Homo sapiens: one gene and its partners. The protein of the gene in region 3 interacts with the protein of the main gene of each other region in a biochemical or structural test. Each region holds a gene or a part of one and is shown on either strand. Other genes may lie near its edges.

Region 1 (3,647 bases), on a different chromosome or scaffold from region 3:
GGCAGTGGGCCCTAGCAGCAGTTGTGGCCCAGGTCCCCAGGTGCATGTGTGCTCTCTGTCTCTCTCTCTTCTCAAACTGGCTCCTCAGACCCTCATGGTTCAGCTTGTGACTCAGGTCCAGCTTTACCTAAAGGAGATGAGGTGGGGCAGGAGCAGTGGGGGTGGGTCCATGGTCCTTTGTGTCTCCCCGCCCGGTGCAGGTGGAGCTGGACAACGTGACCGGGCTTCTCAGCCAGTCCGACAGCAAGTCCAGCAAGCTCACCAAGGACTTCTCCGCGCTGGAGTCCCAGCTGCAGGACACTCAGGTAGGGGTGGCGCCAGGTTCCCAGAAGGTGGACCCCTCCAGAAAGGCCTCTGTGTCCACGCAACATTAGCTTCAGAGCCCATCGGATTGCCCATCCTCTCCTTCATCTGCTTCATCCTGTGGGTGGGTCTCTGCGTCCTCCCAGCTCCCTCCAGGTCTTTACGTGGCCATCCCCTAAATCAGCAGGACCAGCTCCTCCCTCTCCTCAAGGGTGTGGGGTTCCTGGGTTTTGGACACCACCCTCCTAAGCACCCGCACCCCTCTCAACCCGCGAGTAGGAGCTGCTGCAGGAGGAGAACCGGCAGAAGCTGAGCCTGAGCACCAAGCTCAAGCAGGTGGAGGACGAGAAGAATTCCTTCCGGGAGCAGCTGGAGGAGGAGGAGGAGGCCAAGCACAACCTGGAGAAGCAGATCGCCACCCTCCATGCCCAGGTTTGGAGGCCTGGGGGACCGGCCGGACTCTGCAGGCTGGGGAGCTGCTGGCCGGGCACTGGCCTGGGCACTGCAGGACAGCCCTGCCCGCTGGGCCGGCCCATTGCTGCTCTCCCCCTGGGAAGCCAACCGTGCTCTCCCACATCAGTGCTCTCAAGGAAAGGAATCCAGGGATCTGTGGACTTAGATGGGGGACACCACTATTTTCACTATTTTACACCTTTATTTTCACCAGTCTTTAGCTGAAATTCAGCATTGCTTCCATTATGGATGTAGGCAGCAAGCCATGGTGGTGGCAGTCCCTGTGCCGTCATCATCTGTAGAAATGGCCAGTTACCCTGTCAGGGTTGTGGCCGAGCTCCTTGGCCTCATGGGTCCCAGGCCTGCGCTGTTTGTTATCTGATGTGCTATCTAGCAGCACGTGGCTTCCTGAGCCATGGTTTTTTAGAATGTGTGACAACTGCATTTTTCTGTACTGGTTGCCCTGCTGATCCCATGTTTATTTCATGCCTGTTACAACATTGTCATGAGAAGGAGTCCCTTGGCCTCTCTAGACTGCGAAGGGGTCCGTAGCCTAATATGGTTTCAGAGCCCCTGCTCTAGATCCTATCTTGGGCCTCCATGTGCCAGGCCAGAAGGCCTGAACCACCTCGGGATGGGCTGGGAGTCCATTCCACAGTCAGGGTAGGAGTAGCCCGCGAGCGTGCCTGATTGTGGGTTTATCTCCAAGTGCAAGGATGGGGCTGGGTGATGGGGACCCCGTGGACACCCTACAGGGCACTGGCCCTGCTCTCTGGGAGCAGTCTCCGTAGAGCAAGAGGCTTGGTGTGGATGTGGGCTGGGAGCCCCCACAGCGGGCCTGGGGGTCAGCCTCCCCCGGGCTTCACACAGTAGACAGATGCCCCTTTGCAGAAGCTCCATTTGTCTCGCCCCTGTGGAGAGGGAAGTGACTGGGGGAGGCGGTTTCATAACTGGGCAGATCCCTGGTGCCCCTTCCACGGTGTGGCAGGCAGGCTCCCAGCTGCCCCAGGGACGGGTGTGCCACCTGAGCAGGTGCCATCTCGGGCATCTGCTTACTCCTTGCTCCTGCCCAGGTGGCCGACATGAAAAAGAAGATGGAGGACAGTGTGGGGTGCCTGGAAACTGCTGAGGAGGTGAAGAGGAAGCTCCAGAAGGACCTGGAGGGCCTGAGCCAGCGGCACGAGGAGAAGGTGGCCGCCTACGACAAGCTGGAGAAGACCAAGACGCGGCTGCAGCAGGAGCTGGACGACCTGCTGGTGGACCTGGACCACCAGCGCCAGAGCGCGTGCAACCTGGAGAAGAAGCAGAAGAAGTTTGACCAGGTGTGTGGCCGTTGGCCCCATCCTTTGCATTTCCTCTCCTTCAAGCACTGAGTCCAAAGCAAAGGGCCCATCAGAGAAAGCCTGGGCTCCCTCAGGGTCTCGCCGGGGAGGGGCCGTGCGGGGCCAGTGCTTAGAGGACCCTCAGGCTCTGGCTTGTTGAGGGTCCCAGGGAGAAGGCCAGCGGAAGAGGGCGTCTTCATGCGATGGGTTGAGGAGTGACTTTTCCTTTCTGATTTTTTACATTTTTCAGATTTTCTCTAATGAACTGGTTTGACTGTCTTTTTTTTTTTTTTTTTTTTTTTAATTTTTTTATTGATCATTCTTGGGTGTTTCTCGCAGAGGGGGATTTGGCAGGGTCATAGGACAATAGTGGAGGGAAGGTCAGCAGATAAACAAGTGAACAAAGGTCTCCGGTTTTCCTAGGCAGAGGACCCTTTGGCCTTCCGCAGTGTTTGTGTCCCTGGGTACTTGAGATTAGGGAGTGGTGATGACTCTTAAGAGCATGCTGCCTTCAAGCATCTGTTTAACAAAGCACATCTTGCACCGCCCTTAATCCATTTAACCCTGAGTGGACACAGCACATGTTTCAGAGAGCACAGGGTTGGGGGTAAGGTCACAGATCAACAAGATCCCAAGGCAGAAGAATTTTTCTTGTACACAACAAAATGAAAAGTCTCCCATGTATACTTCTTTCTACACAGACACGGCAACCATCCGATTTCTCAATCTTTTCCCCACCTTTCCCCCCTTTCTATTCCACAAAACCGCCATTGTCATCATGGCCCGCTATCAATGAGCTGTTGGGTACACCTCCCAGACGGGGTGGTGGCCTGGCAGAGGGGCTCCTCACTAACCAGTAGGGGCGGCCGGGCAGAGGCGCCCCTCACCTCCCGGACGGGGCGGCTGGCCTGGCGGGGGGCTGACCCCCCCACCTCCCTCCCGGATGGGGTGGCTGCCGGGCGGAGACGCTCCTCACTTCCCAGACGGGGTGGCCGCCGGGCGGAGGGGCTCCTCACCTCTCAGACGGGGCGGCTGCAGGGCGGAGGGGCTCCTCACCTCTCAGACGGGGCGGTTGCCAGGCAGAGGGTCTCCTCACTTCTCAGACGGGGCGGCCGGGCAGAGATGCTCCTCACCTCCCAGACGGGGTCGCCACTGGGCAGAGGCACTCCTCACATCCCAGACGGGGCGGCGGGGCAGAGGCGCTCCCCACATCTCAGACGATGGGCGGCCGGGCAGAGACGCTCCTCACTTCCTAGATGTGATGGCGGCCGGGAAGAGGCGCTCCTCACCTCCTAGATGGGATGGCGGCCGGGCAGAGACACCCCTCACCTTCCAGACTGGGCAGCCAGGCAGAGGGGCTCCTCACATCCCAGACGATGGGCGGCCAGGCAGAGACGCTCCTCACTTCCCAGATGGGGTGGCGGCCGGGAAGAGGCTGCAATCTTGGCATTTTGGGAGGCCAAGGCAGGCGGCTGGGAGGTGGAGGCTGTAGCAAGCCGAGATCACGCCACTGCACTCCAGCCTGGGCTCCATTGAGCACTGAGTTAAAATCACTTTAATTATCATTAT
Region 2 (3,647 bases), on a different chromosome or scaffold from region 3:
TCCAGGACATAAGGGTATGTTCTGACTCAGGGCTTCTTCCTATTGCTGCTTTATCTGATGTCATAACTAGTCCATCCTGCAAGGCCTGGGAGACAGTCACCTTGACTTGGAGCAGACCTTCCTCTACTTCAGTTTCCCCTCACCTCCATCCCAGGTTCTGGAAGCAGAAGGGATGTAAGGTCTGAGTAGAGTTTTGCTTGAGCTGGTGGGTGGACTTAAGGCCATGGTGGTTGAGTCCACTGCTATGCCTACCAAGCTTTGTGTGCTGCTCACTGACTCTGTTGCCATGGCCCTCCTTGCCTACAGTCCTTCATCATGTGTATATTTTGTGGTCACTCTTGTCATGCCACATGAGCTAATTTAAATGGAATTATTGGTCCTGCATTTTTTGGTCACTTGAACCCTCGACAGAACTAATATGTATTTTAGAATGACCATGGAAAATATGACCGACACCGAGAAGGAACATTTTAAGGTTGGTGACGCTGATTCCACAGCCTGCCAGGCGCTTACCCACAACTAGGCCTTGGCCTGTTTATCTCCCTTTCCAGCCTGCAGAAAAACAGGCTCTGTACACAGATGTGAAGAGCTGTGCTTGAAGAACCAGATGCCCAGCTGCTAATGTATCAGCAGACCTGGGCTGGCTGAAAATTAGAAAGAAATGTGCTCTCATCAAAACATGCTTTTAAAAACTGTACTTAATGTGTGGAAATATTGCATTATAGCAGAATTTTTTTCTCCTCAAGAACAAATGCCATTGAGCTTTGATTTCAGGCAAGCTTGAAGTTTTGTTTCCAAGTAAGTGTGGAGCAATAGGACATGATTTCATGAAATACAGTGTAAGATGCTCTCTGGCGTTTAAGATAATCACCAGGCCTTGTGTTGGTGGGATTTTTTCGGAGTCTGATTTTCAAAGCATCAATTGTAATAAGGTGCTTTTGGCATTGAAACCGTTTTTGGAAGATGATGTACTAACACAAATTTAGAAGAAAATCTGCTTTAGTAAAAAGGAGGAAATTGTTTAATGCTTCAAAAGTCCTGTGATTTTGGCTATTAGCATGCATAAATGTGTGTTTAATAAGGCAAGGCTATATAAATTGAACTTTTCCTTTCCAGTAAGTCAATTGTGTATCTTGCTCAGTGAATGGGTACTACATGTAGTAAATTCACAGAAAGATTGAGTTGTAAACTTTACAAAGGATTGCTTAGTCACTGATGGAGTCTTAGAACAATCATTCACCATAGATTTTGTGATGGTCAAATATAAACAAATTTCGGTTTTGTGATGGTCAAATATAAACAAATTTTGGTAAGAGTAATAAAAATAAGTAATTAGTAATGCTTTGGCTGCAGCTCTAATGACATGACTTTTTTTCTGCCCTCTCCCCCATCTTATTTTTACCAGTAGGTTGTGACAGTTGGAAGTGTCATGTACAACATGCGGCGATTAAGTCTTTCACCCACCTTTTCAATGGGATTTCATCTGTTAGTTACTGTGAGTCTCTTATTTTCCCATGTGGACCATGTAATTGCTGAGACAGAAATGGAAGGAGAAGGAAATGAAACTGGTGAATGTACTGGATCATATTACTGTAAGAAAGGGGTGATTTTGCCCATTTGGGAACCCCAAGACCCTTCTTTTGGGGACAAAATTGCTAGAGCTACTGTGTATTTTGTGGCCATGGTCTACATGTTTCTTGGAGTCTCTATCATAGCTGATCGGTTCATGTCCTCTATAGAAGTCATCACATCTCAAGAAAAAGAAATAACCATAAAGAAACCCAATGGAGAGACCACCAAGACAACTGTGAGGATCTGGAATGAAACAGTTTCTAACCTGACCTTGATGGCCCTGGGATCTTCTGCTCCTGAGATTCTCCTTTCAGTAATTGAAGTGTGTGGCCATAACTTCACTGCAGGAGACCTCGGTCCTAGCACCATCGTGGGAAGTGCTGCATTCAATATGTTCATCATTATTGCACTCTGTGTTTATGTGGTGCCTGACGGAGAGACAAGGAAGATTAAGCATTTGCGTGTCTTCTTTGTGACAGCAGCCTGGAGCATCTTTGCCTACACCTGGCTTTACATTATTTTGTCTGTCATATCTCCTGGTGTTGTGGAGGTCTGGGAAGGTTTGCTTACTTTCTTCTTCTTTCCCATCTGTGTTGTGTTCGCTTGGGTAGCGGATAGGAGACTTCTGTTTTACAAGTATGTCTACAAGAGGTATCGAGCTGGCAAGCAGAGGGGGATGATTATTGAACATGAAGGAGACAGGCCATCTTCTAAGACTGAAATTGAAATGGACGGGAAAGTGGTCAATTCTCATGTTGAAAATTTCTTAGATGGTGCTCTGGTTCTGGAGGTGGATGAGAGGGACCAAGATGATGAAGAAGCTAGGCGAGAAATGGCTAGGATTCTGAAGGAACTTAAGCAGAAGCATCCAGATAAAGAAATAGAGCAATTAATAGAATTAGCTAACTACCAAGTCCTAAGTCAGCAGCAAAAAAGTAGAGCATTTTATCGCATTCAAGCTACTCGCCTCATGACTGGAGCTGGCAACATTTTAAAGAGGCATGCAGCTGACCAAGCAAGGAAGGCTGTCAGCATGCACGAGGTCAACACTGAAGTGACTGAAAATGACCCTGTTAGTAAGATCTTCTTTGAACAAGGGACATATCAGTGTCTGGAGAACTGTGGTACTGTGGCCCTTACCATTATCCGCAGAGGTGGTGATTTGACTAACACTGTGTTTGTTGACTTCAGAACAGAGGATGGCACAGCAAATGCTGGGTCTGATTATGAATTTACTGAAGGAACTGTGGTGTTTAAGCCTGGTGATACCCAGAAGGAAATCAGAGTGGGTATCATAGATGATGATATCTTTGAGGAGGATGAAAATTTCCTTGTGCATCTCAGCAATGTCAAAGTATCTTCTGAAGCTTCAGAAGATGGCATACTGGAAGCCAATCATGTTTCTACACTTGCTTGCCTCGGATCTCCCTCCACTGCCACTGTAACTATTTTTGATGATGACCACGCAGGCATTTTTACTTTTGAGGAACCTGTGACTCATGTGAGTGAGAGCATTGGCATCATGGAGGTGAAAGTATTGAGAACATCTGGAGCTCGAGGAAATGTTATCGTTCCATATAAAACCATCGAAGGGACTGCCAGAGGTGGAGGGGAGGATTTTGAGGACACTTGTGGAGAGCTCGAATTCCAGAATGATGAAATTGTGTAAGTTCTATATTATATATGTGTGTGTGTGTGTGTGTGTGTGTGTGTGGTTCAGTGTGTTTATGAATGTGAGTCTGTGCATCATTTTTTAAATTAAATAGCATGCAAGGAATGGAATAGCTTTTATACAAGATCCCTTTCAAGATATCAGTCTTTGCTTGGGTGCCAGTTATCAATATGCTCTGCACACAGAGATCTTAAATTTATTTACATCAGAATTTTATTTTTACTTTTATACATTTACACATTTTAACTACATTGTGACTATGATAAAATGAGTGATGGGACACAGTTTATCAGATGACTTAAGACAGGCTGAGAAATTGGTCTTCTATTTTGAATCACATGGTATATACTCAGAAAAGGAATATTTAAAACATCACAATAGGTCTCTAACTTCGTTTCTGAGT
Region 3 (4,202 bases):
AAAGAGAAGAAGAAATAAGGCAAGTGTCTGGTGGGAGGAGACACTTATTGTTCCTGGGGTCTCTGGAGGCCCCTTGGTGGGGCTGGATCACTGGCTTCCCCCAGAACAGGGCGCCGCTCCATGGCTCTGCTTGTGGTAGTCTGCGGCTATGTCTCCCAGCAAGGACAGAAACTCAGAAAAATCAATCTTCTTATCCTCATTCTTGTCCTTTTTCTCAAAGACAGTGGCGAGGTAATGTATGCCCTTTTTGTCCTGTGAAGAGAAAAACATACAAAATAGAAAAATTCAATCACAAACAAGTTTTGGGCTGGGAGGGGAGAGGAGGAGGCAGAGATACAGACAAGTACCTAGATCTGCACAGGCATGGTCGTGGGGCTGAGAGCACAGGGTGAGTGGGTGAAGTTGGGGTGAGGACGTGAGTGTTATCCCTGGAGTTCTCTAAGGAGACTTTTTGTCTCACACCTCAGGATGGGAGGCAGGTCCTGTCCCGAGGCACTCTGTTAAGTGACCTTGGGGAGAGCAGTCCCCTGCCCCAGCCTCAATCTTGCCTGTTCCCAGCATTTAAGGGCACTGCCTACCTTAGTTCTACCCCAGGGCCTCAAAATTGGCCCTCATGCTTTGTTCTCTTCTTTCTCTGACCTCCTCTCCTTTCTTCTCCTTTTCCACCAAACTCATCTTCTGGGTTCCCTACTCTTGGTCATCTAGACCCTTTGGTACCTAGTAGCCCACAGGTTTTTTCAGATTTGCCAATGAGTTTTCTTTATTGCAAAGAGGGCTATTGATTTCTACTAGCAATGGAACTTCTAGTGCTTTCCCAGTAATCTCAGGGATGTTGATGTGGGGCCTTTGGGAAGCAGGACCTGAGCATGTGAGTTTCAGTCTCACAGAGAGAGGGTCAGTGAGCGCTGGGAGGGGACTGTGCACTGTCCTCAAGCTGCACACTTTGCTGACCATCTAATAACCTCCTTTATATCTGTATAACTCTTTCCCATTTTCATACTTTTTCGCCTACCATCCTTAGATTCACATATGATCCAAGCAATAAAGCCCTATTTGCAAATGGGAAACTTTTTAATCAGAGGATGAGGGTGACCTGTCCAAGGCCACATAGCAAAATGTATCCTCAGCCATGCCAGGGTCCAACCAACATTGAGAAGCTAGACCCCAACTCACACAGGCACTGAGGAAATTGGGGAAGTTCTCCTTCATCATCGTCAGCAGGCTTGGCTTCTCAATCTTGCCATCACGTCCGGTGTATTTGTGAAACATGTCGATCATGCCTATTATGGACCTCTCAGCTTGAGTGTTGCTCATCTTTGCTTTCAAAAAGCCTTCAGGAAATAAAGACAATCATTTCTTACCTTAGTTTGAATTAAGGTCTCTATGTGGGGGTGTTAGAAGGAGGGCTGAGGACAGAGTAAAAACAGCCCTAAGATGGAGCAGAAGGAACTTGATTTTTTTAAATGTGATGGGATAAGTTGTTCAAAAATGAGAGGGTAGGACCAAGTCTGAGACCCGGCCCATCCTGGCCAGGGCCAAGAAGAGATGCAGGTGGATGGCAGAAGTCCAGCTGTGGACAGTGCTTCAGAGAAGGAGAAGCAGGGAGAGTCGGAGGCCAGCAACACATAGAAGAACTAAGCTGGGACCCCCCAGCCTCAACCAGCACATGGCGGACCCCACTCTTGAAACAGCACCAAATCCATCTCCTCCAGCTTCACAGTCGGGGTGAGAGTCACGGGGGCAGGACAATGGCCTTGGTGATCTGGTGTCTGACCCTCCTCGGCTGCTTCAGGAACCAGACACCGTGGGCCCCACCTTGACTCAAGTGCAAGCCCTGCATGACACAGTGCGTGCAGGCTCCAGGTGCACATGTGAGCGTGGACATGAGTGTGAGCAGGAAACACAGCCCTCTCCCGAGGACAGGGGGCCCTTCCTACATTCCCTTGGGAATGAGAAACAAGAATTGCCTCTGTTACAAGGAACAGAAATAACTCCCTGGTTCTTAAGCTGCTGGATGGGGTGGGAGTGAGGTGGGAGTCGCTTCATGTCTGCTCTTGGGAAATATCTGCACCCTCTGAATCACCAAGGGTTGACCCTGTTTAAATAAAAATGTCTGACTTTCCAAAGCAGATCTTCCAGCCAGTAGCCAGCCTGGGCTGCCCTGCACCCCAAGCCTGAAAAATAAGACAGTGCAGCTCTCATTTCTACACTTTCCAAAGAACCAGAAAAGGACCTTGGCTAACGCATGTGGGCATCTGACAATAAACCCCCAACACCTCTCAACGCAGGAGAAAGCTCCGTGCCAGCAACTGACTAAGAGAAGCCACTCAAAGCTTTCTGAATCTGAGGCCAAGGCCAAGGCCAGAGGCCAAGCCCTGTGCCCAGAGATTGACTGAGAATTTACAGGTCCAAGGCCTGGGGGTTTGGAGAGCCTCCAAAGCATTCACAGGGGATCCTTATCCCTCCTCCCTCTGTGGGGGCAGAGCTGGGGAGGGGATTCAGCAACTGGGATCCCAAAAGGAGAATGAATCCAGGGAGGAAGAAGACAGGAAGGAAAGGGAGGGTCCTGTGCTCAGGTCCCACTGGGGACATTTCCACAGGAGTTGTCTCAGGAGATCCCAAAGGAGCAATGGACAGGTCTGGTTCAGCCACCTGGTTGTACAGACGTGGGCTTTTGGGGTCAAGTGAAGGTCACACAGCCCAGCTAATGGCAGAGCTGGCCTAGACCCAGGCTTCTGAGACTTTGTCCACAGCCCTTTCCCTTCCTACAGGCAGCATGGCAGGCTGGGCACTGGGCACTTCTAGAAAATGCAAAGAGGCAGGTGAGACTTACCAGAACTGGGAAGTGTCACGAGTAGAAGGATGAGTGAGATGTGTGTGTTTGGACAAAGAGCAGTCCTTTATAAGGCTCAGCCTGGCTCTTCCCACGGGTTGGGAGGCCTGGGGCCACCTCTGTCATCTGTTTCTTGGAGGCTTGTCCCATATCAGGTGTGTGGGACACACCCAGGAGGCTGTGCTCAGGATTTCTGGCCAGGGTCCCAGGTCACCAGGTCCCACCCCACCCCAGAGACCTCACCTGGGGCCTTCTCTGGCTCAATCTTGATTTGAGGGTAAGGCAGCGGTACATGTGTAGTAACAGGTCAGGAAATGGGAGAAAAGAGCACTGGGCCTCTGGACCCAAAGAGAATGGAGTTTCAGACTCCCAAAGGCAGCATGGTCTTGTTTATTCCCTCCCCCAGTACTTCCACACATTTGTTGTGACAGCCTGTTCTATGACCCCCACCGCTTACTGAGCGTTTTAATGTCTAGACATCAAGACACCTGCTGCTCTTGCATCCTCCTCAACCCTCCCCTCATAGTCTTAAGAAGCAGGTGCTGCAATCTCTATTTTAGGAAAGGAGAAGTTGAGATGTTCCCAAGTTTACTCAGCTAGTAAACACAACAAATCATCACACGAACAAAGAAAAGCCTGAATCAAATCCTTACTCTTATCCCCTGTGCTATAGGTCTTGGGTTGCATCAGGGTCTGCCCTATGGGAACTCAAAGTCCAGGGAGGGAAGCAGGATTACTTCATTGCTAACCATTGGTCAGCCCCTCACAGAAGCCCTGGATTTAGGTGGGGGGACTGGGGTCAGGGGCCTCACTATCTAGGTTGAGTGGTGGAGTGACCCCCGCCCCCCCCGCCCCATGGAATGAGCCTGGAGGTAGGGAGTGGGAAAAGTTCTTTCCTGCCCCATGGCACTAACTTCCCAGAAAGTCTTCAGTGTTTTTCCTCCTCCTATGCAAAACAGCCTGTGTAGGAGTTGGGAGTTGTGCCCTTGGCTATAATGTGCCCTAACCTGCTGTGGAAAGCCTGAACCAGGTAGGGGCAAGAGGGTTGGGAAGGCACAGGAGTCCCTGGGGCATGGTGAGGAAAAGGAGATGATGAATCACTGAAATGGACTTTTTCTGCTACCCCCTTACAATGTTCCTTGTAGGCCGCAAGAGGTCCTGGTTCATTTAGTGCCAGCCCTTTAAGCACTCTGGGGCTCCATAGAGCTGATGTGATGTCTCCCTAGGTGGGACCTATTTTCTCCACCCATCATCTTTCTTCAACTTCCTTCTCTGTCAGTTCTTATGTAACCAGGGGGACCTGTTTCTCCCTCTCCCAGTTTCCCATATGACGGCAATATTACTTTTAGCGGCAAAAGATACACACACA

Evidence for each region.
Region 1: the proteins of S100A7A (region 3) and MYH9 interact in a biophysical measurement, tested with the Homo sapiens proteins (one large-scale study listed by IntAct).
Region 2: the proteins of S100A7A (region 3) and SLC8A1 interact in a biophysical measurement, tested with the Homo sapiens proteins (one large-scale study listed by IntAct).

Annotation. Positions count from the first base shown.
Region 1 is NC_000022.11:36,290,417-36,294,063, reverse strand, and holds part of MYH9 (myosin-9), read left to right. Parts: intron 1-200; coding exon 201-305; intron 306-582; coding exon 583-735; intron 736-1,829; coding exon 1,830-2,078; intron 2,079-3,647. UniProt on the Homo sapiens protein: Cellular myosin that appears to play a role in cytokinesis, cell shape, and specialized functions such as secretion and capping. Required for cortical actin clearance prior to oocyte exocytosis. Promotes cell motility in conjunction with S100A4.
Region 2 is NC_000002.12:40,428,063-40,431,709, reverse strand, and holds part of SLC8A1 (sodium/calcium exchanger 1 isoform A precursor), read left to right. Parts: intron 1-1,405; 5' UTR 1,406-1,429; coding exon 1,430-3,237; intron 3,238-3,647. UniProt on the Homo sapiens protein: Mediates the exchange of one Ca(2+) ion against three to four Na(+) ions across the cell membrane, and thereby contributes to the regulation of cytoplasmic Ca(2+) levels and Ca(2+)-dependent cellular processes.
Region 3 is NC_000001.11:153,415,195-153,419,396, reverse strand, and holds the start of S100A7A (protein S100-A7A), read right to left. Parts: upstream 2,878-4,202; 5' UTR 2,834-2,877; intron 1,332-2,833; 5' UTR 1,315-1,331; coding exon 1,174-1,314; intron 253-1,173; coding exon 88-252; 3' UTR 1-87.